Linked DNA regions of Homo sapiens: all the other regions are linked to region 1. Evidence: fine-mapped expression QTL. A gene starts in region 1. Each other region holds a variant in brackets. All regions are shown on one strand. Distances are between the middles of the regions. Region 1 holds the start of WBP1L (WW domain binding protein 1 like). Region 2 overlaps SUFU (SUFU negative regulator of hedgehog signaling). Region 3 overlaps WBP1L (WW domain binding protein 1 like). Region 4 overlaps SUFU (SUFU negative regulator of hedgehog signaling).

Region 1 (7,349 bases):
GAACATACAATGTTTCCCCTTCCTTCTCAGCTCCTCAAGCCTCTTGGATTTCCTGTTCTCTTATAGACAACTGCTCTTTTGGAAATGTCTGGAAGGTATGTGGTGGCTATAATGTTCAGGGACATTCTAAAAAGTGGTCACTCAAACTGCATCTCAGTCTCATTTTGTAACATCTCTCTTCTTTGAGTTGGCTGCTGTGGGATGTTGAATAAGAGGCAGTTAAGGTTACTAAAAGGCCTTGGTGTGGGAAGTGCTAATCCAGACTGTCCTATCCAATAGCTCAGCTTGAGCTTTCAGGTAAAAGGAGAAAGGGAAGTTGGGGCAAAATCCCCTGTGTTTGCCAAACTGAATTGGGGTTTCTTATTTATTGAGAGAAAGAGGGTATCACTTTCTTGCCCAGGCTGGAGTGCAATGGTATGATCATGACTCATTGCTTCCTCAGCCTCCTGGACTCAAGTGATCCTCCTGCCTTAGCCTCCCGAGTAGCTTCTTTTTCCTGAGTTCGGCTAGAATAGCATGGGTAAAAGGTTCCATTGCTCGGGAGAGGAGGAGGAAGGGAAGAAGAAGAGGTATAGAAGCTTCCTTTTGATCCAAGGTCTTTTCCTCAATCCTGGCTAGAACCAGAATCCTAAAGGTTTCCTGACTACAGGTACATGCCACCATGCCCAGCTAATTTTTAAATTTTTTGTAGACAGAGGGCCTCACTATGTTTCCCAGGTTGGTCTTGAACCCCTGACCTCAAGCAATCCTCATGCCTTGGCCTCCCAAAGTGTTGGGATTACAGGCGTGAGCCACTACATCCCACCTGGGGTTTCTTAGTGATGATGAAACCTAGCCTTTATGTGGAAGACTTACAACTTTTTGAGGCCAGGAATTAGAGACCTTGTGCCATGAAAATAATTTGGTCCTTCCCTAGTACTCAATTTTTACTTCTCCTCTAAGGAGCTTGACTTGTGGAATGGATAAATTTCTAAGAAACGAGAGATTGGCAAAAATACGTGTCACTTTTTATAGTACTTGGAAAAGCAGGATCAAGATAAAGGCAGAACTATGGACTTTCTTAAGCTGAGGGAAGACTGACTTAACTCTTACCTGTTTCCCATTTTTCCAACACTTAAGCCAAGAACAACTTCCTCTGGGCTCAGATGTGGGCTAGACTGGGCCAGGCTGTAAAACACTTTGACAGGTTTTTGAGAGGAAATTGACTGCTAAAGTCAACTGTGTTATTTGCCATGGGTCTTCCTTTGTCCATTTATTTTACCAACTTTTTTTTTTCTTTTTTTTTTGAGACAGAGTCTCACTCTGTCACCTAGGGTGGAGTGCAGTGGCACAGTCTTGGCTCACTGCAACCTCTGCCTCCCAGGTTCAAGCGATTCTTCTGCTTTAGCCTCCTGAGTAGCTGGGACTACAGGCATGCACCACCACGCCTGGCTAATTTTTTGTATTTTTAGTAGAGATTGGGTTTCACAATGTTGGCCAGGCTCGAACTCCTGACCATGTGATCCGCCCACCTCGGCCTCCCAAAGTGCTGGGATTACAGGCAGGAGCCACCGCACCTGGCCTTTTTTTTTTTTTGAGACAGGGTCTCACTCTGTTGCCCAGGCTGGAGTACAGTGGCACAATCAAGGCTCATTGCAGCTTCAATCTCCCTAGCTCTGGTGATTGTCCCACCTCAGCCTCCCAAGTAGCTGGGACTACAAGTGTGCACCACCATGCTTGGCTAATTTGGCTAATTTAGTTTTTTTATTTTTGTAGAGACAGGGTTCTCTCCATGTTGCCCAGGCTGGTTTCAAACTCCTGAGCTCAAGGGATCTACCTGCCTCAGCCTCCCAAAGGGCTAGGATTATAAGCATGAGCCACCACACCTGGCTATTTTACCAACATTGATCAAGCTCTGGTTGAGCCTTGTACAGGATATTATAGGCTTTAAAAGAAGAAGAAGAAAGACCTGGTATGCTGTACAAAAAACTGCAAACCAGGCACGCAGATATAAGTGTTACAAGAATCCAGAAGAAGCAGCAAGGAGATGGGGCTAGGAGTTTGTAAGCAGGGAACTGTATCTGTAATATGTAAATGAAGTTACTGGGCATCTCTTCAATGGTCAGTGTGAGTGGAATGTGTGGGAAAATGTAGTGGTGAGAGGTGAGATAAAGAGAAGTAGACAGGGACGAAGTCACAGAGAGGACCGTGTTGGGAAGTTTGGACTCTCTATTCTGTAGGTAGATGAAGTATTTAAAAGAAGAGGCCATGATATAGTAATATTTGGTTTAATGTGGTATGGTTGTAGTGTGTGGCGGAAATTTGAGAGGAAGAATTGTCAACTTGCAGGGCAGCAGGGAAGCCATTTGTATTTAGCTAGAAGAACATGGATTGAAGCAATGGATGATGGATTTCAGAGCAATTTGTGAAGTAGAACCAGAATTTTGTCCGTCGAACTTGGGGTGACGAAGCACTATGCCTCAGATAAAGGTACTATCTTCTAGGGAATTCAAACGGACCTAAGCTGCTATTTGGGCAGTTGAGACCAAGAGAGGCATCCTGGTAATAGTGCTGTGCTTCAAGACAAAAGACATTAAAATATTTTTACATTGCAATTGTTTTCCTCTTCAGGAGCGCCTGGTTACCTTTCAGGAATAATTTATTTTCCAACACCCTTGAGAAACATTAAACCTTTTTTCTTTTTTTGATGTGGAAAACTGGAAAACTAGTACTTCCGCCACACTCAAGATGGCTACATCAGAAATAGACTTTTCCATCCACCTGGGTGGCCCCGCCCCCTTATGAAGCTGCTTCCGCCACTCTCTGCGGGTTGGGACGAATTTTACACTTCTTCGCAGCATTCAAGATGGTCCGGCTTCCTCCTACTTTTTATTGGCTGCATCGCTTCGTCTTCAGGGGAAGGCGGGACTTATATTTGATCGACAGCTACATTGATCAATGGACAAAGGGCAAAGGCCAATGAAGCGCTGGAACTGGAGAGTCTCTCGCGTGTCTGGGAGGGTGTTTTGCGCGGGGCGGGGTGGAGCAGAGCCGGAAGCGGGAGGGGAGCGTCAAACAGGAAAAGAAGGGAAGAAGGAAGAAGAGGGTAGAGGAGGAGAGGGAGGAGGAGGAGGGAGGTGGCGGCGCCGTGGCGGAGGAGCAGGAGCAGGAGGGGGATGGAGAGGAGAAGGCTCCTGGGTGGCATGGCGCTCCTGCTCCTCCAGGCGCTGCCCAGCCCCTTGTCAGCCAGGGCTGAACCCCCGCAGGTAAGGGGGAGGGGGCGTCTGGGCCATGTTGGGTCCTGGGGGTCGTCGAGGCCTGGCTGGAGGGGTCTGAAGGAGTGTTGTTGCCAAGAGTTGAGGGGTCCCGAGAGGGGCGTCTATGCCTGGCGTGGACAGGATCTAAAGGGGCGTCGGTATTTAGCTGAGGGACACCTGTGACAGTTTTGGTGTCAAGGAGGTGGCAGAGGCATGATGCCAAGCGAGTGAGGGGCGTTTGAGACGGCAGGTTGGTTAGGTGGGCTGGGGTGACTGTGGCTGGATAGCGGTGCCAAGCTGAGGATGTGGGCCTTATTCGTGTCCCTCTGTGGAGCAGGTGTCCCAGGCAGTAATGCAGTATGTACGTCTGTGTGTGTAGGGGTACACAGGCTATTGAGTTGGCCTGTGAGGGAGGGGATCCTGAGGATATTTCTTTAAGGATGGACTGGGGAAAGTTCCGAGGGCATCTTAGTACGTTTAAAAAAAATTACTATGTTCCTGGGAGAGACTTGGCCCCATTTTAAAATCTGTAAGCCATGGCGCACTTGGTTGGAGGGAGGACTCTCAGAAGGCAGGTGGGATGAAACAGAGTGGAACCCCTCAGGAGGAGGAGCACACTTGAGCTGTAACAAGCTCTTGCTGTTAGGCTGGCTGGCCTGGGAGAGCAAGTCACGGATGCTGATCTGAGCCAGCTCAGGGCTTTTGACCAGAGGGTGGTTCTGATGCCAATATGGGCAGCAAATGGAGCACCCTAGCTTTTCTTGCTGGGTGGCTTGCTCTTTATCCAGGCAGAGAAGCTTGCTTGTGCTGATTCCAGCTCCAGCTGGCATTTCAAAACCCTAATGGGAGCGTTACTCCTGGTGCCAAGTTGGGTGGGGTGCAGTGGGGGCAATCACCCCTCCTTCCTTGCATGTGGCAAAGCTTTATGATTCTTTTTTCTTCACTTTCTGTTCTTTTCCCCGTTTTTTCAGAAAGGCATACACACATAGACGCATAGCGTAGTGGCAAAGTTTATACAACTTAGCGCTTGAACTTGTGTTGTGAACAAGAGCAGAAACTGAGTGCCAGCAAAAATACTTATCTTTTCCCTAGGAGTTTTAGGGCTGCCTTTTCACAAATACATCTTGTTTTGCCCATTATCCTCTATTTTAAAATACTGATTAAAAAATAAGTTGAAATTCACATGACAAAAACCATTTTAAAGTGAACAATTCAGTGGCATTTAGTACACTTACAATGTTGTGCAACTACCACCTCTATCTAGTTCCAAAACATTTTCATCACCCCAATAGAAAACCTCGTCCCTACTAAGCAGTTACTCTCTGTCTCCCTTTTCCCCCAGCCCCTGGCAACCACCCGTCTGCTTTCAGTCTCTATGGATTTATCTATTCTGGATATTTTATATAAACGGGATCCTACAATATGTGGTCTTTGTGCCTGGCTCCTTTCACTTAGCGTAATGTTTATAAGGCCCATCCACATCGTAGCATGTACTAGTACTTCATTCCTGTTCATGACCAAGTAACATTCTGTTATCTGTAAACCACAATTTATTTATGCATTGAAGTGTCTAATTTTTCCTCAGGATATGTTTGTGTATACTAGAAATACCATGTGAAAGGAATGTAGCTCATTTTCTAGCCCAGTGTATTCCCTTTTCGAGGGTTGGGACCCTTCTGTTTTAGCCTTTGTTGGGGTTGTTTTTCCAGTGGAAATCATAAACTGGCAGAAGAAATATATTTTTTTTGTTTACTAGAAATGTTATAGCCCTCAGGACCAGTAAAGTTAAGTATAGGTATTGACAACAAAATATAGAATATAGTAAATACAGAATTTACTTTTCCTTTGCACATGTCTGTTTCTGTAAGTATCTCGAAAAGGCTGTCCCCAGTAACCAATAAATAACATCGGTAGAGGTTTGGTTTAGGAATGTCAGAGCCTTTGGAGATGGGCTGGTCAAAGATAGGAACTAGATCCACTTTTTCAGCAACGGGGATGATGGAAAGTGGAGGTTCCTACCAGGTCGTGGAGCCTGGGAGGTGTTGTGAACATGTGGAAGGGGATTGTTAATGTTATATTCTAATTGCAGTTTGCAAACCACAGGCTGCTTTCTTATATCTGTGGCACTTCTAATACTTAATTTTGGGGACAGGTGTCTTTTGTACTTTGTTCCATTTGGATGAATGCTATCACTGACCAACAGCTGTTACACGGTTACAATTCCTGCAGAGAAGGGAAAGTTTTCGTAATGAGCAGTGGCCCTCTTCCTAACCAGCCCCCACATACCCTCACTCCTGACGCTCCCTATACAATTCCATCCCCCACCTTATACTCCTGTCTCTTTCTGTCTGGGAGTACTAGATATCTATAGTGAGATTTCTGTTTTGAATTTTAACCTTCGGAATGCAAGTTACTATATAATTATTAACTCTGAATCCACCGCAATTTAGTCAGTGTATTTTTTTGGGTTTTTTTGGGGGGGGTGGGGGAAGGGGTTGCTTGTACAAATCAGTAAGGAAAAAAAAATCCCAAGGCCATTTTGGCACAGGGCATACTTTAAGTACCCATGGTCCTTAATTCAACAATGAAGTCCAGCTAACTTTGAATTCAGGAGGACTTACTATACTCATTCTGTATCGAATAATGGTATTGGTACCTTATTGCATTTCTCCCACAAAATTGATCTACTTACAATACAATCTTTTTTTTACATGCACAATCTTTTTTTTACATACACATTTACCATCAGAAATAAATGATACTAGGCAACTTGCTTTCCCTGTTACCAGCTCTGCACTGAAACAGCCATTTCTTGTTTATGCAGGCAGGCCCTGGAAAGTTCATCAGCTAGTTCATTCTGTGGTTAGGAACTTAGACTTAACTCTCCTACAGGTTATGACATTACAACTCACAGACGTGAATCCTTAAATCTATAAAGAATGAAAAAGGCTGGGCATGGTGGCTCACCCCTGTAATCCCAGCACTTTGGGAGGCCAAGGCAGGCAGATCACAAGGTCAGGAGATCAAGACCATTCTGGCCAACATGGTGAAACCCTGTCTCTACTAAAAATACAAAAATTAGCCAGGCATGGTGGCACACCTGTAGTCTCAGCTACTCGGGAGGCTGAGGCAGAAGAATCGCTTGAACGTGGGAGGTAGAGGTTGTGGTGAGCCAAGATCATGCCACTGCACTCTAGCCTGGTGACAGAGCGAGACTCCGTCTCAAAAAAAAAAAAAAAAAAAAAAGAATGAGAAAACAGTAGATGCTCCAAATAGTAAGGCTCCGACAGCCTTGGCGTTTGTTTCCTCCAGTTAAATTATCATTGAGATACATAGAGTTTCTTTTGGTTGTTTAGATTTAACCAGAATGTTTGTTTTTGTTGTTGTTGTTTTTGTTTTGTTTTTGAGACAGGATCTCACTCTGTTGCCCAGGCTGGAGTGTAGTGGTGTGATGTGATCTTGGATCACTGCAGCCTCGACCTCCCAGGCTCAAACGAGCCTCCCACCTCAGCCTCCTGAGTAACTGGGACTACAGGTGCATGCCACCACGCCCTGCTAATTTTTGTATTTTTCTGTAGAGATGGGGTTTCGCCATGTTGCCCAGGCCGGTCGCAAACTCCTGGGCTCAAGCGATCTGCCCATCTCAGCCTCCCAGAGTGTTGGGATTACAGGCATGAGCCACTCTGCCCAGCCTAAACAGAATATTTGACTATGTTATTTAAAACAAAGTTTTGGTAGAAATGTCTTTTTTTAATAGGGTAACTCAGCCAGTGGTTTAGGGACAAATCTCTAGAGATGCAGTCCTTACCTTTCCTTTGCCAGGCTTAAAACTTTGAGCTGGGCCTGGCACGGTGGCTCACACCTGTAATCCCAGCACTTTGGGAGGCCGAGGCAGGCGGATCACGAGATCAGGAGATTGAGACCATCCTGGCTAACACAGTGAAACCCCGTCTCTACTAAAAATACAAAAAATTAGCTGGGCATGGTGGTGGGCACCTGTAGTCCCAGCTACTCGGGAGGCTGAGGCAGGAGAATGGCGTGAACCTGGGAGGCGGAGCTTGCAGTGAGCCGAGGTCGCGCCACTGCACTCTCCAGCCTGGGCAACAGAGCGAG
Region 2 (7,349 bases), 130 kb before region 1:
TCTAAGTGAGGAAGACATATGGGGGTAGGAAATGGATTCAACATGAGAAAGAGACAAGGAGAATCCGGGGTGAATGGGAGAGTGATCCCAGATGACAACGGTATAGCAGGAATGAAAGGCAGCCAACTCAGGTGGGAGCGGGTTGGAAGGATCCTCTGGAGAAATGTCTCCAAGAAAATAAAATTGATAAATACCTGATGTATTTGAATGTCCTGGGAGGAGGATGTGTGGACCATTGGTAAGAGTAATTTTTTTTTTTTTTTTGAGACGGCGTCTGACTCTGTCGCCTTGGCTGGAGTGCAGTGGTGTGATCTCAACCTCTGCCTCCTGAGCTCAAGTGATCTTCCCTCCTCAGCCTCCTGAGTATCTGGTACCACAGGCACATGCCACCATGCCTGGCTAATTTTTTGTACTTTTGGTAGAGGTGGGGTTTTACTGCGTTGCCCAGGCTGGCCTTGAACTCCTGAGCTCAATCGATTTTCCCACCCGGCCTCCCAAAGTGCTGGGATTACGGGCATGAGCCGCCACGCCCAGCCAATAATAGTAATTCTGATTTAATTGGTGATAAGCACATAGAAAACTAAGACAGGTATTAAATCCAAGGAAAATAGAAAATTATGACAGAAAGGAAAAGTATATTAATATAATACATGGCTCAACTGTAAACAGCATTGATATAGTCATAAAATTTAAACACACCAGTCCACACAAACTGATGGTGCAGTTATCCTGAAAAGGTGGGAAGGTGCATGGAAGAGAGCTAAAAGCTCATCTTCCCTAGTGGGGAGTCAGTAGGTAAAGCCTGAAAAGGAAATACCAGGCCAGGTGTGGTGACTCACGCCTGTAATCCCAGCACTTTGAGAGGCCAAGGCGTGCAGATCACTTGAGGTCAGGAGTTGGAGACTGGCCTGGCCAACATGGTGAAACCCCGTCTCTACTAAAATACAAAAATTAGCTGGAAACGGTTGCGTGCCTGTAGTCCCAGCTACTCGGGAGGCCGAGGCAGGAGAATCGCTTGAACCCAGGAGGTGGAGGTTGCAGTGAGCCGAGATCTTGCCACTGCACTCCAGCCTGGGCGACAGAGCAAGATTCCATCTCAAACAAAAAAAAAAAGAAAAGAAAGAAAAGAAAAGGAAACACCGGGGAAAGTTTATTTAAAATATCAAGGATGGGAGGCTGAGGTGGGTGGATCACCTGAGGTCAGGAGTTCAAGACCAGCCTGGCCAACATGATAAAACCCCATCTCTACAAAAATATAAAAATCAGCCAGGCGTGATGGTGGGTGCCTATAATCCCAGCTCTTCGGGAGGCTGAGGTGGGAGAATCGCTTGAACCCAGGAGTTGGGGGTTGTAGTGAACCAAGATAGCACCATTGCACTCCAGCCTGGGCAACAGAGCGAGACTCTGTCTAAAAAAACAAAAAAAAAATTTAAGGAAAATGCGAAAGAATCATCTACAGAGGTGACAGTTGTCTCCGAGGAGGGGAGCATGGGAAAACAGTGACTATTGTAATGACCCTCATGAAACCGTTTGACTAAACACTAAAAAAGAAAAAAGAAAAAGATATTGTATGAGCTGTTACAGTTTACCCTGCCCAGTGAAAAGAAAGGATGATGTGTGCCAGGTAAAAAGCACACAGTTAGTGCCAAGGCAAGCCCAGGGGAACTTCAGCTTCCCCAGCCTCAGGCTGAGAGTTGAGGGTGAGCCATGGAGAATCATCTGACAGCCCCCTGAAAAGTGTCTGTCTCAGGGGCACAGAAGATAATGGGGGGAACTTGGCTGTGGACCCAATTCTGACCAGCAGGGAGTGTGAGTCCTGTGAGAAAGCAGCTTGGGCAGGCAGAGTTCAGGAGGGAAAACCCTGGGCCAGTAGTCCCTAGAGGAGGTCCCCACAGCGTTTTAGGGGATTTTCTTGGGTGTTCAGCCAGAAGAGGGTTCTCTGGCTACAGTTGGAAAATGCTGGCTTACACAAAATGAAACCGGTACATTTTCCCTCTGTCCTCCTCAGAGTCCAAAATGCCAACATTTTGTGAATCTCTAATCTGAGATGGGACATATTCCATCCACCTTTGCCACACCTGTTTTTCTAGAGGCTTCTCTTAAATTAAAATTCCATCGAATACCCTTTGGGAAGTCCTGCCCTGTCTTCCAGGAAGGCAGTTCTTTTAAGAATTCAAGGAAAAGATAGATATGTCTTCATAGTCTTGAAACCCCGGAAGAAAAGACCACTCAAAAGAGATGGGAGTTTCTTAAGGAGAAATGTAGAAATATTATAGTTACTTTTGGGGTTTTATCTCAGCTCTTTACTCATTGTGCGATCTTGGGCTAGTTATTTAAGTTTCTGAGTTTCAGTGTCTTTATCTGTAAAATGGGGAAAATAATGCCTCTTTATAGAGTTGTGATGGAAATGAAAGGAAGCAAAGTACACAAAGGATTAGCATGGGACCCAGCACCATAGTCTGTGCTCAATAAAGATGTCTCTTATTATTGTGAATAGTCCCCTGAAAACCAAAAGGAGGTCTATTACCTCCAGGGACCAATATAGGTCTGTAGAGAATACTTCACACAACTCAATTTGGAAGAATTTGAACAAATGCTGGAAGGAGAGAGATGTTATGTCAGCATAGACTTTAAAGAACAGGGTCAAGAAAAGCTGAAACTCAAGAACTGAGTCTTGCAAAAAAAGTGCAATGACCAGCAAAAAGGACATTATTTTTGTACTTCTCTTTGGAGCAAGAAGAAGAAAACCTAGACCCAATTGTTTGGACAGAGTAACATTTATCAGTGGCAGAGAGAAAGCAAAATTTGCTTAAGTTCTGTTATGGTTCCATATTAAAGCAAATGGTTATCAGACCAGGAAGGGTCCCACAGGCATTGACAAGAGGGTTGAATCTATTATTTCAGCTCTCCTGGCTCACATGTATTGTGCCTCCAGAACACCAGAATTGGCAGGCGAGAGTCATGAAGCTGGTGTCAGCAATCTTTGAGGGAATGGGAGAGAGGTGTTGGCAGACTGGAAGTACTCGGAAGTTTCAGGATGCAAAAAGCATCTTGCACTCTCTAGACTAGTGAGCTTGGTGTCACTCTCAGTGAAAATTCTGGACTAGATTATTCAGCAAGTAGGCTGTGAACACTCCAAGGGAAAGAGCGAGTCCTGAGAGTCAGAAACAGCCAGGCTTGCCAGACCATCCTCATTGCCTTTTTATTTATTTATTTTTAATTTTTTCCAAAGACCGCTAAGTGGACTCAACATCGTCGTTGCCTTTTTAGAAATGCCTACCTGGCTGGGCGCGGTGACTCACACCTGTAATCCCAGCACTTTGGGAGGCTGAGGCGGGCAGATCACTTGAGGTCAGGATCACTTGAGGTCAGGAGTTCGAGACCAGCCTGGCCAATATGGTGAAACCCCGTCTCTACTAAAAATACAAAAATTAGCCAGGTGTGGTGGTGGGCACCTATAATCCTAGCTGCTCGGTAGGCTGAGGCAGGAGAATTGCTTGAACCTGGGAGGCGGAGGTTGCAGTGAGCCGAGATCACACCATTGCACTCCAGCCTGGGCGTCGCAGCAAGACTCTGTCTCAAAAAAAAAAAGAAAAAGAGAAAAGAAATGCTTACCTGCCCAAGTAGACAAAGGAAGTGCTGTAGACCTTATATAGGCGGGGTTTAGCAAGATGTTTTGAGAACATTCTGACAGCATTATAGGCAAAACAGAAATGTCCAGAGAACATCCAGAAGGGTGAGGGCCGTGGCGATGGGAAGGTTGGGTTGATTTATAACTGGTTGGATGAGCATACCCAAAGAGTAATGATGTCAGTCCGTCAGCCTGTCTGCCTAGCCCTTTCCTGTTTACTTTTTAATCAAAGCCTGGGATGAGAACATCGATGACGAATTTATCAGTTTTGTCAGTGATCTGAAGTCAGGAAGGAATGCCAATATGATGGATGCCAGAGTCAGGTTTCAGAAATACCCGAACTGCCGGAACACTAGCCAGATAGCGCAGAGTTCTTCTGCTCCTAGCTCCATGTAATCAGCCAGACATATGGGGGAGAACGGGTCCCAGGGCATCCCATGGGAGAAAGCCCGAGGGAGATTTCGTTGACAGAGGGAGTGCAGTGTGAGTTGGTAGTATGAGGAGGTTACAAAGAGTAGATAATTCGATGACAGTTTTAATAGAAATAAAATGTCCTGGACAAGAGAGATCATAGTCCCTCTGTGATCTGCACTGGTGAGGTCACATACTATGTTTATTGCCACACACGACACTTCACTTCTGGATGGGACATCAAACTTTGACAGGTTAGAATGAGCCCAGGGGAGGTGACTTGAATGGATGGAGGATTTCAGAACCTTGTCAAGAATCTAGTTAAAAGTTAGAGCCACAGATAGTAGAAAAAGAAACTTGGTGGGATGTGAGAGCAGCCTCAGGGATTGGAAAGTCTGTTATGGGAAGATGGATTCAGCTCGCTCTGGGCAACTTGAAGAACAGTGGTTTGAGAATTGCAGGAAGGCAGCTTGTGCTCTGTAGAAGGAAGAGAGCCCTGGCGTCACCTCCCTCAGTAGAGCAAAGGCCTCAGTGTTTCTGTTGGACTGTAGTTGGGCCTTTCCAGAGCACCAGTGGTTGACCAAAGCCTGCAGGGTCCACTCAAGGAGTCAGGAGCTCTTTCAAGCCCCATCTCAGAAGTACCCTCTCCCAAGCTCCAGGCAAGAACCTTTGTTCAGCAGGGAACTGGCCTGGCCAGAGGCAGTTGTAAAGGCAAACAAGTTTTGGTTAAGCCATTGACATTTTTACAGGAGGAGCAGATAGACTTTTAGAGGCAGCCAGCTAACGTCAACACATTAATGCACTTGTCAGATATATTGTGAGCACCTACTACATCCCAGGCACTATTGGCCTTATCTGAGTCATCCCATTTAGTCATAATGACCTATTGTTATTTATTCTTGTTAAGAGGATACCAAAGCCCAGAGAGAAGTTAAGCCCAATGTCACATAAAACTGGAACCCAGAACTTAAGCTGTTAGCCACTCTGCCTCCTGGAGCACAGCCTTGGCCCCATGCCCCTGGCAGTCCCCAGCGGGTATGAGCTGTGCCTCCCTGAGAGCCCCTCTCCCTTCCAGCCCC[C/T]AAAGCCATGCCTTCCCCTCCACTGGGAACTCAGGGAGAAAACAGCCCAGCTGAAAAATTAGGCCATGCTGCCGAGCACACTACTTATTTTTTATGACTAAGATTAAGCTGACAACCATGCAAAACATTGCAAACCTGTGTCGGCTGCAGATTTAATACCTCACCTAGCCCACACAAATAATTCATGCTTCTGCATCGATGTCCAGAAGAAACAAATCAGCAGAAAACTGGGTTCTTGTGTGTGTGTGTGTGTGTGTGTGTGTGTGTGTGTGTGTGCACGCGCATGTGTGTGTGTGTGTATAGCAGCCGCGTTTCCATCGAAGCAGCATGCCGGAAATACCCAAGCTCCAGGACTGCAAATCTTGCATTTTGCAATTTTTTTTTCTCTTAAAAGATTAAAGTACAGTTTCAAATGATTGAAGGTTGGTGGGAGGTGTAAATGTGGGCACTTGTCACATTAATTCTTCAGATGATTAAGTTCTTTTCCATTTCTTTAAGGCTGTTTGCAGTTGGGTTTGATGTCCTGGTTCTGGGTGAGTGTGTTGTGGCAGTTACCAAGGTGACTTTAGCTGACTTTCAACAATTTATTTTTCCCTCCAGCTTGAGACGTCTCTAGCCCTGTGTGCTGTTGATTCTTTTCTGCAAGCCCCCACCCCACCTCCCATTGCTATTCATGAGCATTTTTGCCTGCACCATAGAGGCTGGGATTCTCTAGCACGCCCTGCCTGGACAAGCTAGGCCTCAGCCCCTCTCAGGAGGACAGTAGTGTGTCTGGAGGCAGGAACCGGTGGTCAAAGATGGCACAGGGGAGTGATTGTGAGAGTCACCCCCTGGTCCTTTCGCTTAAACTCACTCTGAGCCCTTCGGCTCGTCACCTCACCTCCCTAAGCCTCAGTTACCTCCTCTGTGAAAGAAGGCTTGACAACAGAGCCTACCTCGTGCTTGCTGGGAGGAATCAGCGAGTGAACCTATGGCCTTAGCAGAGGGTTGGCGCAGAGTAAGGGCTCAGGAAACATGGCTCAGGAAACACTGCTTCCTGAGTTCTGCTCTTGTTTGGGCCCTGAGGGCACCCTATGTCTCCACTGAGCCCTCACCTGTGACTGCTGCCTCCCTCAGAAGGAAGGGAGGTGCAGTGGCCCTGGTGGAAGGGAAAGAGAGTTGGTCGGAAGTCTGAGGCTTCGATCAGAAGTCTGACGCACGGTGAGGGGGGACGCGTCACCCACTCTCTTTTGTAAAGGAAAGAGGGAGATTAAACAACCTCAGAGTTTCCTTCCAGTCCTGAATACTGTGACCCTCTTGGCCATAGCATTTGTCTCCTTCACAGGTCTTGCGCAAAGGCGAAGCCAGGGGAAAAGGCAGTTTTAGAGCTGGCTTTAGGAAAGCAGAGGAAGGGACCGCTTTGTGAAGGAACAGTCAGATCCAGGAGTGAGTCCTCACAAGGAGAAGGCCAGCAGGCAGGCACGGCCCATGACCTCAGGGGCACGTCTAACCCACTGCCGCCACAGGGCCATCCTCTGTCTTTGGCCTGCGGACCCTACACCTTCCCCTGGGGAGGTGCCCTGCCTGTTGGGGTGCCACCCTGGCTGCAGGCCCCAGCACCTAGCCCCGCAACGTGTGAGGAGGTTGGGCCTGCCCCTCAGTGGCTGTCTGGCTGTCATCCTGGGTGGCTCCTGCCTGCCACTTGAATGATAAATAACTAGAGCTTCTCACCCAGTTTTTGATGGACACTTGGGGAATTGTTCTGAGATTCACAGCCCAAACCAGGATCCGGCCTTTTGAATGGGATCAGTGGGTAACTCTTATTTCTGGCTGAGGCAGATTTGAGAGGTTGTCAGTGGGGGCAGCTGAATTTGAAAGAGCAAATCTTAGAATGCAAAGGGACCCTGTGTCCCAGCCGTGGGCCGCACTTTTGGTGGGGAGCAGGCAGGAGGGAGTGTGGGGCAGCAGTGACAGCTCACCGTGCCAAGGCCACAGTCAGGAGGAATCTGGTACAGGCTCCTGGGGCCTTAAAGCCCAGCAGGGCGGGGGCCCGGTTCTGCTTTCCAGCCAAGCCCACTGGTCTGACTCGTAAGAGCCCAGCTTGTACTCAGCAGTACAGATTGTATCATCATCTGGTTAGATGAAGGGTGTGAATGTCCCTGCAGCTCCTGGCTGTTGGCGGAATGTGCATCCTCAGAGCCTTCAGGGTCAGCTGGACAGAAACTCTTGGAGCCGCATCTCATGGTGCT
Region 3 (7,349 bases), 54 kb after region 1:
GTAAGTTCCGAGCAGTTTAAGGTAAGCTAGGCTAAGCTATGCTGTTCAGTAGATTAACTGTGTTAAATGCATTTTTGACTGACGATATTTTCAATTTATGATGGGTTTACCAGAACATGACCCCATCGTAAGCCGAGAAACTTCCGTACTGTGTTAAAAACTGTTTGAGGAACACTGGATTAAATGATGCTTCCACTGTTCTGCTCTCCCTGGGAAAGCGGAGGCAGAACGGTGAAGCAGAGTGAGGTCTTGTTTATTCCAGGCCCCCTGCCTCGGTGCACAGAAGATCCGAGAGAAAAGCTGACTGACAGCAGTAGGTCATGAGGATGCCACTTGTTTAGATTTCAAATGCATTCCACTCTATGTCTCACTTAAGACCAGTTGACAGCCATGTGTTCCGAGCCTGGGCTGCCTCTGGTGAATTTTCCTGAGACAGAAGTGTCATTGGATTCTTTCTTGTGCCAAGTGTAGGCACCACTGCCTCTTTTAGAAACTATGTGGACACTTTGAACTGTGCTCTTTTAAGCCAGTGCCGGAAGAATGGCATTCGCAGGGCCTGGTAAACTGGGGAGAAACTTTCTGATGTTTTTATGAAAGGCATGTTTTGCTCTGAAGTCAAAGAGTGTGTGTTCTGGCCAAAGTAGCAAGCATAGATCTGCTTTTTCCACACGCACCAGGCTTCAGAGGAGAAGTTGACTAGATAGCCAGTGTCTCATTTTGTTTGTGGTGGGCATGGGATGGTGAAAACGGAAGGAGGAAGAAGTACAGGGGACAAGATATTTAGATGGTCCACAACTTGCGATGGTTCAACTTAATGGTTTTTCAGCTATGATGGTGTGAATGGCATACATGGCCAGTAGAAATCATTCTGTTTTTCACTTTTAGTACAGGATTAAGTAGATGGTATGAGAAATCCAACTTGATAGCCAGTGTCTCATTTTGCTTATGGTGGACATGGGAGGGTGGTGGTGGGGCGGCGGGGGAAGGAGCACATAGAAGGAACTCTGCGTGCAATGTTGTGAGGGCCTCATTGTCAGGGTTTATGAATTTCTCGTTTCCTTCTTTCTAAACTGTCATATCAGAATGTAAAGTTTTTAAGACCAAGAAACACCTAAAGATTTATGGTGGAAACGTGCACTAAGCCGGGGAACTGGTTTTCAGTCCTGTGCTTTCTCTTGTCCTCTCCGTGTGGCTTCAGGTGCCAGTCCTGTTTCTGCCCAGCCTCTAGCCCTGTAGACAGTCACTGGAGTGCCTGGTGTATACCCTTGGCCAAGTAGACAGTGTAGTAAAGCATGGCCCAGAGAGGAGGAGCCGACCATGTGACTTCAGTTTCCACTGGCAGCTGTCCGCCGGATGTGCACTGTGGGCAGGGCCAGCCTGAGTTGCCGCAAATACTGTGGCTTTAGTTTATTTGCTGAGCAGGGCTTTTTTCCTTCTTAACTCTGAGCTTCTTGGGGATAAGGACAATGTCTTATTCATCTTTGTATCCCTTGAACCCAACACAATGCTTGGCACAAAGACAGCGTCCAGTAAGTGACTGTGTTATTGTTTAGAATGAAGAAATGTTGAAGGCCACATATAGCAGATGCCTTACAGGTTTCGTCATCTGCATAGTGGCCCCAAGTACATTTTGGGCTGAGGTTAACGTTGGTCTGGGAGGTATTTTATATCTTACATGTGAAACTTTTTTTTAAAGTTCCCCTCCATCCTCATCCACCAGTGCTGTGGACAGAATTTGGCAGACAGCTAGATGGCCACTCAGTAGTGCCCTTTATGTGAGTGTCCCTGACAAGGGACAGTATGAATCCTGGATCCAGTCAGGATTCTTTTTCAATAAGCAAAAATGATCTAGCAGATTGAAATTAGACTGGGTTATCTGAGCAGTTCGGCCCTTTATTGAAAAGTAAAGAATTTCAGTTGTAGATTTTTTTTGTTGTTGCCCTCTTTAGGATCACACTGTGAATTAACCTTGGAGAGAAAGTGTTTTAAAAAGAAGAATGGAATAACTGAGCAGATGCTAATCCTAGAATACATACCGCTTTAATTATTCCAGGAAGTTTCACAGAAAAGCCAGTTTTATTTAAAATGTACTGCTAATTACCAGGGAATCATCACCCTCCTACCGGCTGAGGTTAGCACCGGAACATGAAATGTTTCTACTTGGACCTAAAGTGAGGCAGCCCTTGCCTGTCCTGTCTGAGGAAAACTTCACTCTGCCAATTGCTTTTGTGTCCTGAATCTCCTCTCCTCTTTAATAAACCATATTTTTTCCCCTAAACTCTGTTGTTGTTGTGTAAATCTTTTAAAGTTTTTTTTGTTTGTTTGTCTTTTTTATTTTTTATTTTTGAGATGGAGTCTCGCTCTGTCGCCCAGGCTGGAGTGCAGTGGCGTGATCTTGGCTCACTGCAATCTCTGCCTCTCTTGTTCAAGCGATTTTCCTGCCTCAACCTCCTGAGTAGCTGGGATTACAGGCGCGCACCACCACGCCTGGCTAATTTTTATATTTTTAGTAGAGACGGGATTTCATCATGTTGGTCAGGCTGGTCTCGAACTCCTGACCTCGCGATCTGCCTGCCTCGGCCTCCCAAAGTGCTGGCAATACAGGTGTGAGCCACCGCGCCTGGCCAAAGTTGATTTTCTTAATGGAATAAACATTGATACAAACTGTTTTGGGGGCTGGTGAATAGACAACCAGGAGGACAATGATGAGAAGGAAAGTGTTCAAAAGCTGTCATTTAATATGCTAACATGCTTTTTTAATTTTTTAGGATAAGGAAGCCTGTGTGGGTACCAACAATCAAAGCTACATCTGTGACACAGGACACTGCTGTGGACAGTCTCAGTGCTGCAACTACTACTATGAACTCTGGTGTAAGTCCTTGCTTGGGTGCCTCTCAGTATCCCAGGGTCCCAGTTACTGCCTCTGCTTAGTGGGAAACTCTGGGCATTAGCCCTTTTCGGATTCTCTTGGGGACAGTGTTGGTGAGTGGAATCTGTTTATGGGTTCCAGAAGTGCTTCCTTTGTAGAGGAAGAGAGTTCTGGTGCTCTTTGGACTTTGTTAGCTGAAGACTAGAGAATATGGTCTTAGCCAGGTCTGCTGCAGAAGCTCTTGCCTGAGGTTCTCCTGGCTGCCCTCTCCATTGTGTGCTGAGCAGCTGACAACAACTTAGATGCTTCCTTGGGCCCTCCCAGAAGCCCAGGTTTGCCTTTCTTTTTTTTTTTGACGGAGTCTCGCTCTGTCACCAGGCTGGAGTGCAGGCGCAACCTCAGCTCATTGCAGCCTCTGCCTCCCGAGTTCAACTGATTCTCCTCCCTCAGCCTCCTGAGTAGCTGGTACTACAGGTGTGCACCACCATGCCCAACTAATTTTTGTATTTTTAGGAGAGATGGGGTTTCACCGTATTGGCCAAGATGGTCTCGATCTGTTGACCTCGTGATCTGCCCGCCTTGGCTTCCCAAAGTGCTGGGATTAGAGGCGTGAGCCACCACACCTGGCTGGCTTGCTGTTTTTGCAGAGAGAGGTTGCAAGCCAAGCTACTATGAATGCCAGGCCACTCTAGATGGTCACTATGCCATTTTCTTGTAAGGACCACAGGGGCTTCCAGAATTTCCCATAGAACCTCATGGAGTGCCTCTGTTTCTGAGGGTCCTTCGGAAAGGAACAGTCTTTCCCTAGGTCCTTGCCTATAGAGGACCTTCTGGAGAAAGGGAGTCTTGAGGCTCAGCTCCTTTTATTTCTTACCCAGTTCTCACATGGAAG[T/C]TCCTGGAGGATTCTCCAGTGTACCTAACCTTTTACTGTCAGCTAAATCCCATGTGGAGGCTGGGCACAGTAGCTCACGCTTATAATCCCAGCACCCTGGGAGGCCAAGGCATGTGGATCACTTGAGCCCAAGAGTTCAATACCAGCCTGGCTAACATGGTGAAACCCCCTCTCTACTAAAAATACAAAAATTATCTGGGCATGGTGGTGTGTGCCTGCAGTCCCAGCTACTCAGGAGGCTGAGGCAGGAGAATCACTTGAACCCGGGAGGCGGAGGTTGCAGTGAGCCGAGGTTGCGCCACTGCACTCCAGCCTGGGCAACAGAGCGAGGCTCCATCTAAAAAAAAAAAAAGAAAAATGCCATGTGGAAACCATCTTTGTCTTGCCACTGGTTTGACTGAAGCCAGAACCACTTGCTTCTTCAAGTTGCACGACAGTGGTGATGGTGTTAGGGTCTTCAGGGAGTGACCCAAGGTTGCTTCAACTGACACTCTTTGTACTCTGACCTTCCTGGAACTCAGACGAGACAGTGTAGGATGCTGGACAAAGAATGAGAGGGTGTTGGGGGGGTGGTGCTTAGGACAGCGAGGCCCCAGGTGACTGACATTGCCGTAGTTCTTACAATTGTCTCTTGAGAAAGGAGACTGCAGGCGGTTTCCCCAGATGATTCTAAGCCCTCATCACTGCCTCCATTTGGAAACAGACTTCGGGTTTGTCAAACCATGACCTTGCCCCCACCATCCTATCTGCGCCTTTCCCCTTTCTCATCCCCCCCATCAACCCCTGTGTCAGTGATATGGCAAGAAAGCAGCCAGAAGGACTATTGTTTGGTCCAGAAAGGAAATTAGACTCTTGGCTGGGAGGTCTGTCCATCTGAAATGCAGTTGTATTTGTAGCCAACAGGAGTGGTTCCTCCAAACAAGACCTCTCCCTCACCCTCGCTTTTCCCTTTTGAGGACTGAGGACGGGCTCATCTGCCTTTCTGAGGAATTCCAGGAGCAGTCCAGTGCAGGAGAGCACAAGGCTCAAGATGTCCCCACCAGACCTGCAGATATATAAGCAGCAGTGAAGGAGGGCACAGTCATTGTTGCTATTTTAGAAGGGGTGGGGCTGAGAAACTTACTAGAGGACACACAGTGCCAAGCAGGTAGACAGACTCTGTTTAAATGTTTTAAAATGCAGATAACCACAGGGTTCAAATTCTCCTTCCCACCCTTTGTTAAAACAAAAGTTGAAGCTGGGCTGCCAAAAAGCCACAGAGCTGTAGTTTGTTTTTCTGGGTCCTGGCCAGGCGGCATCAGTTGTGAAAAGGAACGAAGTTGCTCATGGCCCCGTCTCAGATTGACAGAGCCTCCTGGGCTTTTGGCAGAGCCGACTCAGGAGCCACCTGAATTGGGTCACCAAAGCCAGGGCAGGGGGGTGGAGTGGTGGGGACAGGGAGACCCAGAGGGCAAGGAGGTAGTCTGGGAAAGCAGGTGCCTCACCCCAAGGGCTTAAAGAAAGTCAGAGAAAGAGCTGCATGAACGGCTAAGTGTCTCTCTAGCTACGGGCGTTTAGGAAAGGAGGCCCAGCAGAGAGCAGTGTCTAGACGGAGAGAAAAGGTGCCCCGTTAAATGAGCTGGCATGTGTTTTCCACGTTCTGGAGGCATGGGAGACATAAAAGCAAAACGCCCTTCTCAGGAAGTCCTCCGATCTCCCTCTTTATTGAGGTCATGGCTTCTGCCTGGTGTGTATGGGAGGGAGGTTGATGTTGGAACAAACACCTGAAGTTCTCATCAAAATGGCACTTTTTGTTGCTTTCAACCCTGTTCCCTCTAACTGCCTCTCAACTTTGCCTGAAGTGTGAAAGTCACGGGCTTTGGGCTGATTTCCTTCCCACCTTCCTTTGGAAAGAAAATTCCTCAGCCAGGAAATCCTTTGGCAGAGTTTTCATCAGACAGGGCAACTCCTTAACTATAGTTGCCTACAGGAAAGGCCTCCGGGAAAAAATGCCATTTCTACCCACCCTTTACCTCTACTAAACTGCATTTTCCTGTGTGCTGAGGAAAATTCTCAATTCTCACACACATACTTACACACACACACGGTTTACACAGACACACAAGCACACATAGACCTGAGCTCTGGCCGGCAACCTTTCCCACATGTCTTTTCAATGTTTCATAACCCAAACCAGTTATTGGGCCTGCATGTGTTGAGAACGGCAGATCCTGTTTAATAGGGGCAGTAGTTGAGGCTATTAAGGACCTGATCGTTGTTAGTATTATCTCCATGCATTTTTACGGCACCTGTACTTTAATTCATCATTCCATCAGTTATTCATTCAGCAAACCCTTATTCCAGTGCTCTTGAACTTTAGCAGGCATCAGAATTTCCTGAAGGGCTACCGAAAACACACACTTCTGGGCCCTACTCCCAGAGCTTTTGATTCAAAACTGAGAATTTAAAAACCTGAGAATGTGCAATTGTAACAAGTTCCTAGTTGATGCTGTGACCTCCTCTGGGCTGGAAACTGGAGAGACAGAATTCTTACCTTCAGAAGGTAATCCAGCGGGGAGGGGATAGGATGTGCATTGGCCCAAACCCCAAAGCCACTCCTCCCTGTTCTCATCCTGGGGCTCTCTCCACTCAGCAAGCTACATTTTCCAGGGAGAGATCAAAGTTGGGAATTTCTGCCCTTGAGATCATTTGGGAGAATTTCACCCAGGCATCAGTTTCCCCTGGTTTGGGCTTTAGGAGGGAGAGGGGTATGTTTCTGGACAGTGGAATTTCCCTGAAGTGACACAAAACAGGCTATTAGCAAATCCTGTCAGTGCTGCCCAACTCGTTTTTCATTTTTTATTCTCTCTCTTTTTTTCTTTCTCTCTCTCTTTCCTTTCCCTCCCTCCCATCTCCCTCCTCCTCTCTCCCCTCCCTCTCCACTCTTCCTCTCCCCTCCCTCCCCACTTTTCCTCCCCCCTCCCTCCCACCCTTCCCTACCCTTCCCCCCACCCCCACCCTTCCCCCACCCTGCCACCCCTCCCCCACCTTCCCACCCTTCCCCCCACCCTCCCCTCCCCTTCCTCCACCCTCCCCTACCCTTCCCCCAGCCTTTCCCTTTCCCCCTTCCCCCTCCTCCTTCCACCTTCTCCTTCCTTCCTTCCTTCCTTCCTTCCTTCCTCTTTTTGTGTGTGTGAGACAAGGTTTCACTCTATCACCCAGGCTGGAGTGTAGTGGTATGATCTTTGGTCACTGCAGCCTTAACCTCCTGGACTCAAGGGATCCTCCTGCCTCAGCCACTTAAGTAGCTGGGACTATGAGTATGTGCCACCATGCCCATCTAATTTTTGTATTTTTTTGTAGAGATAAGGTTTCGCCATGTTGCCCAAGCTTCGTTTTTTACCTGCCGTTTTTTTTTGTTTTGTTTTTAGTTTGTCTTAAGATACCCATTGTTAGCAAGAGCTCAGTAAATAGGAGTTGATTGAATTTCCAGTGCCAAGAACAGAACCTAAAAGCAGACTTTGGACTTGTTCCTAACCTGTGTTTCTTTTTTCCTTTTCTTTCTTGAGACAGCGTCTCACTCCCTCGCCCAGGCTGAAGTGCAGTGGC
Region 4 (7,349 bases), 190 kb before region 1:
CCAGTTGTTGGCACATGAGGCAGATCCATAACTACCACCTACCATTGTATGCCCTGTGGAACAGTCCCCTCATGGAGGCTACAATGGGTCTTCTCTAAGCAGGAGTTCCTAAATCTGGCTGCCCATCAACCTCTTCGAGGAGCTTGTCAACACACTGATTTCCAAACCTTCCTGTGGGGCTCCAGTTGAGTTGGCCAGAAGTGGGACTAGGGCAGGCCAGGCACAGTGGCTCACGCCTGTAATCCCAGCACTTTGGGAGGCCGAGGTGGTTGGATCACCTGAGGTCAGGAGTTCGAGACCAGCCTGGCTAACATGGTGAAACCCTGTGTCTACTGAAAATACAAAAATTAGCCAGGCATGGTGGTGGGCACCTGTAATCCCAGCTACTCGGGAGGCTGAGGCAGGAGAATCGCTTGAACGCGGGAGGCAGATGTTACTGTGAGCCAAGATCGCACCACTGTACTCCAGCCTGGGCAACAGAGCAAGACTCCGTATCAAAAAAAAAAAAGTAACAATCACAGTAGTTGTGAAACAGAACAGCACTAATAATGGAACAAATTATTATTATGTGCCTTCTTTTTTTTTTTTTTTTTTTTTTTTGGAGATGGAGTCTCACTCTGTCCCCCAGGCTGGAGTGCAGTGGTGCGATCTCGGCTCACTACAAGCTCCGCCTTCTGGGTTCAGGCCATTCTCCTGCTTGAGCCTCCCGAGTAGCTGCGACTACAGGTGCCCGCCACCACGCCTGGCTAATTTTTTGTATATTTTAGTAGAGACGGGGTTTCACCTTGTTAGCCAGGACGGTCTCGATCTCCTGACCTCGTGATCCACCCGCCTCAGCCTCCCAAAGTGTTGGGATTACAGGCGTGAGCCACTGTGCCCGACCTTATTATGTACCTTCTTATGTGTTGCAGTGTGAGGTATGTAACATCAACTATGTAGCATTTTCCCAAAAATGTTTAACCTGAATCAAGTTATAAGCAGACAAATACAGATTGTGAGACACTTTACAAGACAAATGCCTATATTCTTCAAAAATGTCAATGCTCTAATCCCAGCAGTTTGAGAGGCTGAAGCAGGAGGATCACTTGAGCTCAGGAGTTTGAGACCAGCCTGGGCAATGAAGCAAGACCCTGTAAATTAAAGATTAGCCAGGTGTGGTGGCATGCCTATAGTCCCAGCTACTTGGGAGGCTGAGGTAGGAGGACCATTTGAGCCCAAGAGGTTGAGGCTGCAGTGAGCCATGATTGTGCCACCACATTCCAGGCTGGGCGACACAGTGAGACCCCACCTAAAAAAAAAATACACACACACACACACGCACCCCAGTGCTATGAAAGACATAAAAAGGCAAGGGGCAGGGACTGTTCTACATTAAAGGAAACATGGCAGTTTAAATGCATTGTTGATCCTTGATTAGATCCTGAATTGAAAAAAAAGGGTCATTTTTTAAGGACAATTGGAAAAATGTGAATTTACACTGTGTATTAGTTAATAGTACTGTATGTGAAATTCCCTGGATGTGATTATGGTATTATGGTTATACAGGATAATGTCCCTGTTGCTAGAGATAAAGGCTAAAGTATTAACGGATAAAAGGACCTGATGTCTTTAACTTAATTGTCAAATGACTCAAATGATTTAACTTAATTGTCAAAAAATAAAACATCTGTGTATGAAGAGAAGCTAAAGCAAATGAGGCGAAATGTTAACAACTTGTGAAGCTGGGTGAATGGTATTTGGTTATTCATTGTATCATTCTTTTAACTTTTCTGTAGGATTGGAAATTTTCAAAATAAAATAAAAGTTGTGGCTGTTTGTTGAGTATACATTGACTAATATGTGCTCTGAGGCCCTTTCTGTACCTGATGGCCCCACTTATGGTCGTTATAATGTGCCTGCTGTAGTTTGTGTCTGCAGATCACTTTAGGGACGTCAGAACGGGACAGGGTGACTACACTCCTAAAAGTGTAATACTTGACTTTCTATTTTCCAGATTTCTTGTGATATGATTGTATTATTTAAATAACAGGTAAAACAAATCTACTTTAAATTTTTTTTAGAACATGGTAGGAAATAATAGTAAATTGTTTAAATAATGGGAAAATGATAAAGAAAAGTAAATGGTAACTGATTTAAGATAGGAGACCATGGCTATGGGCCTAAATGGTGATGGGAATGACTAACATTTAGACTTGTGCTCTGTGTGCCATTGAATATGTGAGGTTAGGGACTGTGATATACCAGCTTTTCAGTTGCAGCAAGCAAGACAACACAGGTTGAGCTGCATGTTCAAGATCACACATCTAGTGGGTACAAAGGCAAATTTTTTTTTTTTTTTTTGAGATGGAGTCTCGCTCTATTGCCCAGGCTGGAGTGCAGTGGTGTGATCTTGGCTCACTGCAAGCTCCGCCTCCCAGATTCACGCCATTCTCCTGCCTCAGCCTCCCAAGTAGCTGGGACTACAGGCGCCCGCCACCGCGCCCAGCTAATTTTTTGCGTTTTTAGTAGAGATGGGGCTTCACTGTGTTAGCTAGAATGGTCTCCATCTCCTGACCTCGTGATCCGCCCGCCTCAGCCTCCCAAAGTGCTGGGATTACAGGCGTGAGCCACCGCGCCCGGCCACAAAGGCAAATTTTAACCCAGACAGTGTAGCTCTGAATGGCAGCTCTTGGCCAGACACGGTGGCTCATGTCTGTAATTCTAGCACTTCAGGAGGCCAAGGTGGGAGGTTGGCCTAAGCCCAGGAGTTCAGGACCAGCGTAGGCAACATAAGGATATTCTGTCTCTACAAAAATTTTAAAAATTAGCCATTGTGGTGACGCGTGCTTGTGGTCCCAGCTACTCAGGAGGCTGAGGTGGGAGGATTACGCATAAGCCTGGAAGGTACAGGCAGCAGTGAATGGTGATTGCACCATTGCACTCCAGCCTGAATGACAGAGTGAAACCCTGTCTCAAAAAACAAAAACAAAAACAAAAACAGGTCAGGCGCAGTGGCTCATGCCTGTAATCCCAGCACTCTGGGAGGCCGAGGTGGTTGGATCACCTGAGGTCAGGAGTTCGAGACCAGCCTGGCCAGCATGGTGAAACCTCGTCTCTACTAAACATAGAAAATTTAGCTGGGCATGGTGGTGGACACCTGTAATCCCAGCTACACGGGAGGCTGAGGCAGGAGAATCACTTGAACCTGGGAGGCAGAGGTTGTAGTGAGCTGAGATCACGCCATTGCACTCCAGCTTGGGCAACAAGAGCAAAACTCTGTCTCAAAACAAAACAAAGCAAAAAAAAGTACACATAACTGTACAGCTTGATGAGTTTTCACAAACCACATACACCCATGTAACCAGCACCTAAATTGAGAAACAGACCAGTTCTCTAGAAACCTCCCTTACGTCTCCTTTTAGTCAATACTCTTACCGTCTCCTGACTTCCAACATCATTCTTTTCTTTTGTTTGATTTCACTGCATAGTTAGATCCTTAGCACTGTGTGTCTGAACTCATTGCTAATAGCTTAAGTAGCTCCGCATCCCCACTCCTCTTGCCTGAACTGTTCTCCATCTGCCTGTGACTGCCAGATCAAGGCAGCAGCATGGTGTGGTGGTTTAAGAGTGTGGCCTCCTGACCCAGATAGCCTGCATTCATATTGGCTCTGCCAGTTACTGCCTTCTTGGGCAACATGTACATCCATTTGCTCAGCTATAAAGCAGGGATAATAGTAACCGCATGAAGTTATCGAGAGGTGAATTAATACCTGTAAAACACTTAGAATGTGCCTGGTACGCAGTAAGTACTATGTTTTACCTGCAATCATTATCATTATTCAGTCTTTAAAAACTTTATATGGATTGGCCGGGCGCAGTGGCTCATGCCTGTAATCCCAGTACTCTGGGAGGCCGAGGCGGGCGAATCACAAGGTCAGGAGATCAAGACCATCCTGGCTAACACAGTGAAACCCCGTCTCTACTAAAAATAAAAAAAATTAGCCGGACGTGGTGGTGGGCGCCTGTGGTCCCAGCTACTTGGGAGGCTGAGGCAGGAGAATGGCATGAACCCAAGAGATGGAGCTTGCAGTGAGCTGAGACTGCGCCACTGCACTCCAGCCTGGGCGTCAGAGTGAGACTCCGTCTCACAAAAAAAAAAAAAAAAAAAAACTTTATATGGATCAAGATGGACACCTTGGTCTTTTTTTTTTTTTTTTCCTCAATGACAGACCCTACTTAACAGCAAAACTGTATTAGGAAATGTCTTGCTCGTCCCTG[A/C]ATCAGATATGCAGCCTCAGCTGACATGATGACATTTGGAGGCATTATCTTACTCACACGGAAAATCAGTAATATTGATACAAATAAAATTACCTCGTTTTGTACATCATATTATATAGCTGAAAACATTCAGTTCAGGTGTGGCTCCTTGGTTTTTTGTAGTTGATTTATGTAGTTGCCTGTGAAGTCTTAGGCAAATCAAACCCTATTCTAAGTCCGGTAGAGCCTATGCAGTTTAGTGGGACCTTGTAGTAAATCCTTTAATAAGGTGAAGAATCTTTCTATAGTGTAAGTAATTGCCCCTTATTGTAAATATTTTGTAAGATTGGGTGTAGGTCTATCAGGTTTTCTCAGAGCAGATCACTCAGCTGCTGCTGCAGAGCACCTCCTTTGTGACTTGTAGGCATTACTCTACCCCTGTGTGGTTACACGCTACAAGAGTTACATGCATATGTACTGTACAGAACGTGTGTCATTTATGTTTGATGTGTACACAGATATACCTGCCTACGTACATAGTGTTGTAATTCTGTTTGATGGTCTTGCCTCACTTGTGCTGTCCACCTTAAACTTAGTGAGTTTATGGGGAGCACTCCACCCACCCATTTGCACGTGAGAACATGCTCAGCAGTGTAATCAAGCAAGTGAACTGTTTAGACCTGCTTTTCCAGATCTAAGTGACATCCGCAGTCCTACAACCCAGCCTTGGAAATAGCATCAAGGCAGTGGGAGGCGAATGAAAGGGGAACGATGAGGCTCCGGTGGGTGTGGGGGCGGGGGCGGAGATGCCCACAGCCAGCCATGGAGCTGTATGAGGCAGCCTTGGAAGCCTGCTCTGAAGCATGACTCAGATGGCTTCTATAACAGCCCTGACCTGCTGGCAGACAGCTACCCTCTGGGAGGTTTGCGCAGAGGTGGAAGCTGAGCTGGAGAGAAAAGGAAGTAGAAATGGGAGAGATCTGAGAATGAAGAGCATCCAGAGGCAGTGAAGGCTTCCAGATATGGCTAGATATAGACAGATTAGGGTGATTTAGTTAGGATTCTTCTAGTTATAAGAAAATGGGCCAGGCATGGTGCCTCAGGCCTGTAATCCCAGCACTTTGGGAGGCCGAGGCATGTGGATCACCTGAGGTCAGGAGTTTGAGACTAGCCTGACCAACATGGAGAAACCGTGTCTCTACTAAAAACTCAAAAATTAGCCGGGAGTGCTGGCACGTGCCTGTAATCCCAGCTACTCAGGAGGCTGAGGCAGGAGAATCGCTTGAACCCGGGAGGCGGAGATTGCAGTGAGCCCAGATCGTGCCACTGCACTTCAGCCTGGATGACAGAGTGAGACTCAAAAAAAAAAAAAAGGAAGGGAGGGAGGAAGGAAGGGAAGAAGGAAGGGAGGAAGGAAGGAAGGAAGATGGGTGGGGCACAGTGGCTCATTACTTGTAATCCCAGCACTTTGGGAGCCCGAGACAGGCAGATCACTTCAGGTTAGGAGTTCGAAACCAGCCTGGCCAACATGGTGAAACCCTGTCTCTACTAAAAATACAAAAAATTAGCTGGATGGTGGTGCACATCTGTAATCACAGCTACTCAGGAGGCTGAGGCAGGAGAATGGAGAATCACTTTGAACCTGGGAGGCGGAGGTTGCACTACTGCACTCCAGTCTGAGCAATAGAGCGAGACTCCCTCTCAAAAAAAAAGAAATTAGCTTGATGTGGTGGTATGCACTTGTGGTCTCAGCTACTTGGGAGGCTGAGTTTGAGCCCAGGAGGTCAAGGCTACAGTTAGCTGTGATCATGCCACTGCACTCAGCCTGGGTGATAGAGCAAGACCCTGCCTCTAAAAAAAAAAAAAAAGAAAAAGAAAATGGCAGAAACCCAACTGAAACTACCTTAAACAATAACAGGGCCAGGCGTGGTGGCTCACATCTGTAATCCCAATACTTTGGGAGGCTGAGGCAGTGAGGCGGGCAGATTGCTTGAGCCCAGGAGTTTGAGACCAGCCTGGGCAACATGGTGAAACCCCACAGGGGTAGAGTGAAAAGATTGAAAAAATTAGCTAGGCATGGTGGCATGCATCTGTAGTCCCAGCTATTCAGGAGGCTGAGGTAGGAGGATTACTTGAGCCAGGGAGGTCGAGGCTGCCTTGAGCCAGGGAGGTCGAGGCTGCAGTGAGCCATGATCACACAACTGGACACTCCACCCTGGACAGCAGAGCAAGACCCTGTCTCAAAAACAAAAAACAAAGAAAAACAATAACAGACTTCATTGGCTCAGGTGACTGGGACAACAAGGGTTTCAGGTGTGGCTTGATCTGTATGTTCAAATGGGGTCCTCTGGGCTATGACTATAGCTATGACTCTCTGTATGTTGATCTTGTTCTGCAGACTCTCCCCATGTGCCACCACTGGGGAGATGAGCACCATCATTCCTAGTTTCAGTTTCTCTCAGTTTGTAGTCCCAGCAGGCACAGGGCTTTGTGCTTTTAACTTCGGTGTTTTGTTTGTTTTTTACTGATTTTTTTTTTTTTGAGACGGAGTCTTGTTCTGTTGCCCAAGCTGGAGTGCAGTGACACAATTCCAGCTCACTGCACCTCCGCCTCCTGAGTTCAAGCAGTTCTCCTTCCTCAGCCTCCCGAGTAGCTGGGACCATAGGCATGCACCAACATGCCTGGCTAACTTTTGTATTTTTAGTAGAGATACAGGGTTTCACCATGTTGGCCAGGCTGGTCTCGAACTCCTGACTTCAGGTGATCCACCCGCCATGGCCTCCCAAAGTGTTGGGATTACAGGCACAAGCCCCAACACCTGGCCTGTTTTTTAATTGATTTTTGAGACAGGGTTCTTGCTTTGTCACCCAGACTAGAGGCTAGAGTACCATAGCACCTTTTTAGTTCACTGCAGCCTCAAATTTCTGGGCTCAAGTGATCTTCCCATTTCAGCCTCCTGAGTAGCTACGACTACAGGTGCACACCACCACCCTCAGCTAATTTTTAAACTTTTTGTAGAGACAGGGTCTCGCTGTTGCCCAGGTTTTAGTCTTGAACTCCTGGGCTCAAGTGCTCTACCCACTTTGGCCACCCAAAGTGCTAGGACTACACAT

What was found. PIP is the estimated chance that this variant, and not a neighbour inherited with it, causes the effect. A credible set is the group of variants that fine-mapping cannot tell apart.
Region 2: its variant is the best candidate, but not a certain one, in a credible set for the expression of WBP1L in whole blood (TOPMed, PIP 0.64).
Region 3: its variant is the best candidate, but not a certain one, in a credible set for the expression of WBP1L in whole blood (TOPMed, PIP 0.58).
Region 4: its variant is the best candidate, but not a certain one, in a credible set for the expression of WBP1L in whole blood (TOPMed, PIP 0.52).

What each region holds. Positions count from the first base shown.
Region 1 is chr10:102,740,899-102,748,247 of GRCh38, forward strand. WBP1L (WW domain binding protein 1 like) reads left to right here and starts at 3,050. Exons shown (of 4, transcript NM_001083913.2): 1 at 3,050-3,245. The coding sequence starts at 3,156. It overlaps SFXN2 (sideroflexin 2), which reads left to right. Exons shown (of 12, transcript NM_178858.6): 12 at 1-2,594. RefSeq lists enhancers at 2,697-2,746, 3,687-3,916 and a silencer at 3,027-3,186.
Region 2 is chr10:102,606,813-102,614,161 of GRCh38, forward strand. All of the region lies in intron 8 of SUFU (SUFU negative regulator of hedgehog signaling), which reads left to right. Among named protein-coding and RNA genes, the nearest start is that of TRIM8-DT, 33 kb to the right of the region's middle. The variant C/T (reference allele first, on the strand shown) is at 5,122.
Region 3 is chr10:102,795,225-102,802,573 of GRCh38, forward strand. It overlaps WBP1L (WW domain binding protein 1 like), which reads left to right. Exons shown (of 4, transcript NM_001083913.2): 2 at 2,769-2,871. Among named protein-coding and RNA genes, the nearest start is that of CYP17A1-AS1, 34 kb to the right of the region's middle. RefSeq lists an enhancer at 1,086-1,135. The variant T/C (reference allele first, on the strand shown) is at 3,762.
Region 4 is chr10:102,551,142-102,558,490 of GRCh38, forward strand. All of the region lies in intron 3 of SUFU (SUFU negative regulator of hedgehog signaling), which reads left to right. Among named protein-coding and RNA genes, the nearest start is that of SUFU, 51 kb to the left of the region's middle. The variant A/C (reference allele first, on the strand shown) is at 4,258.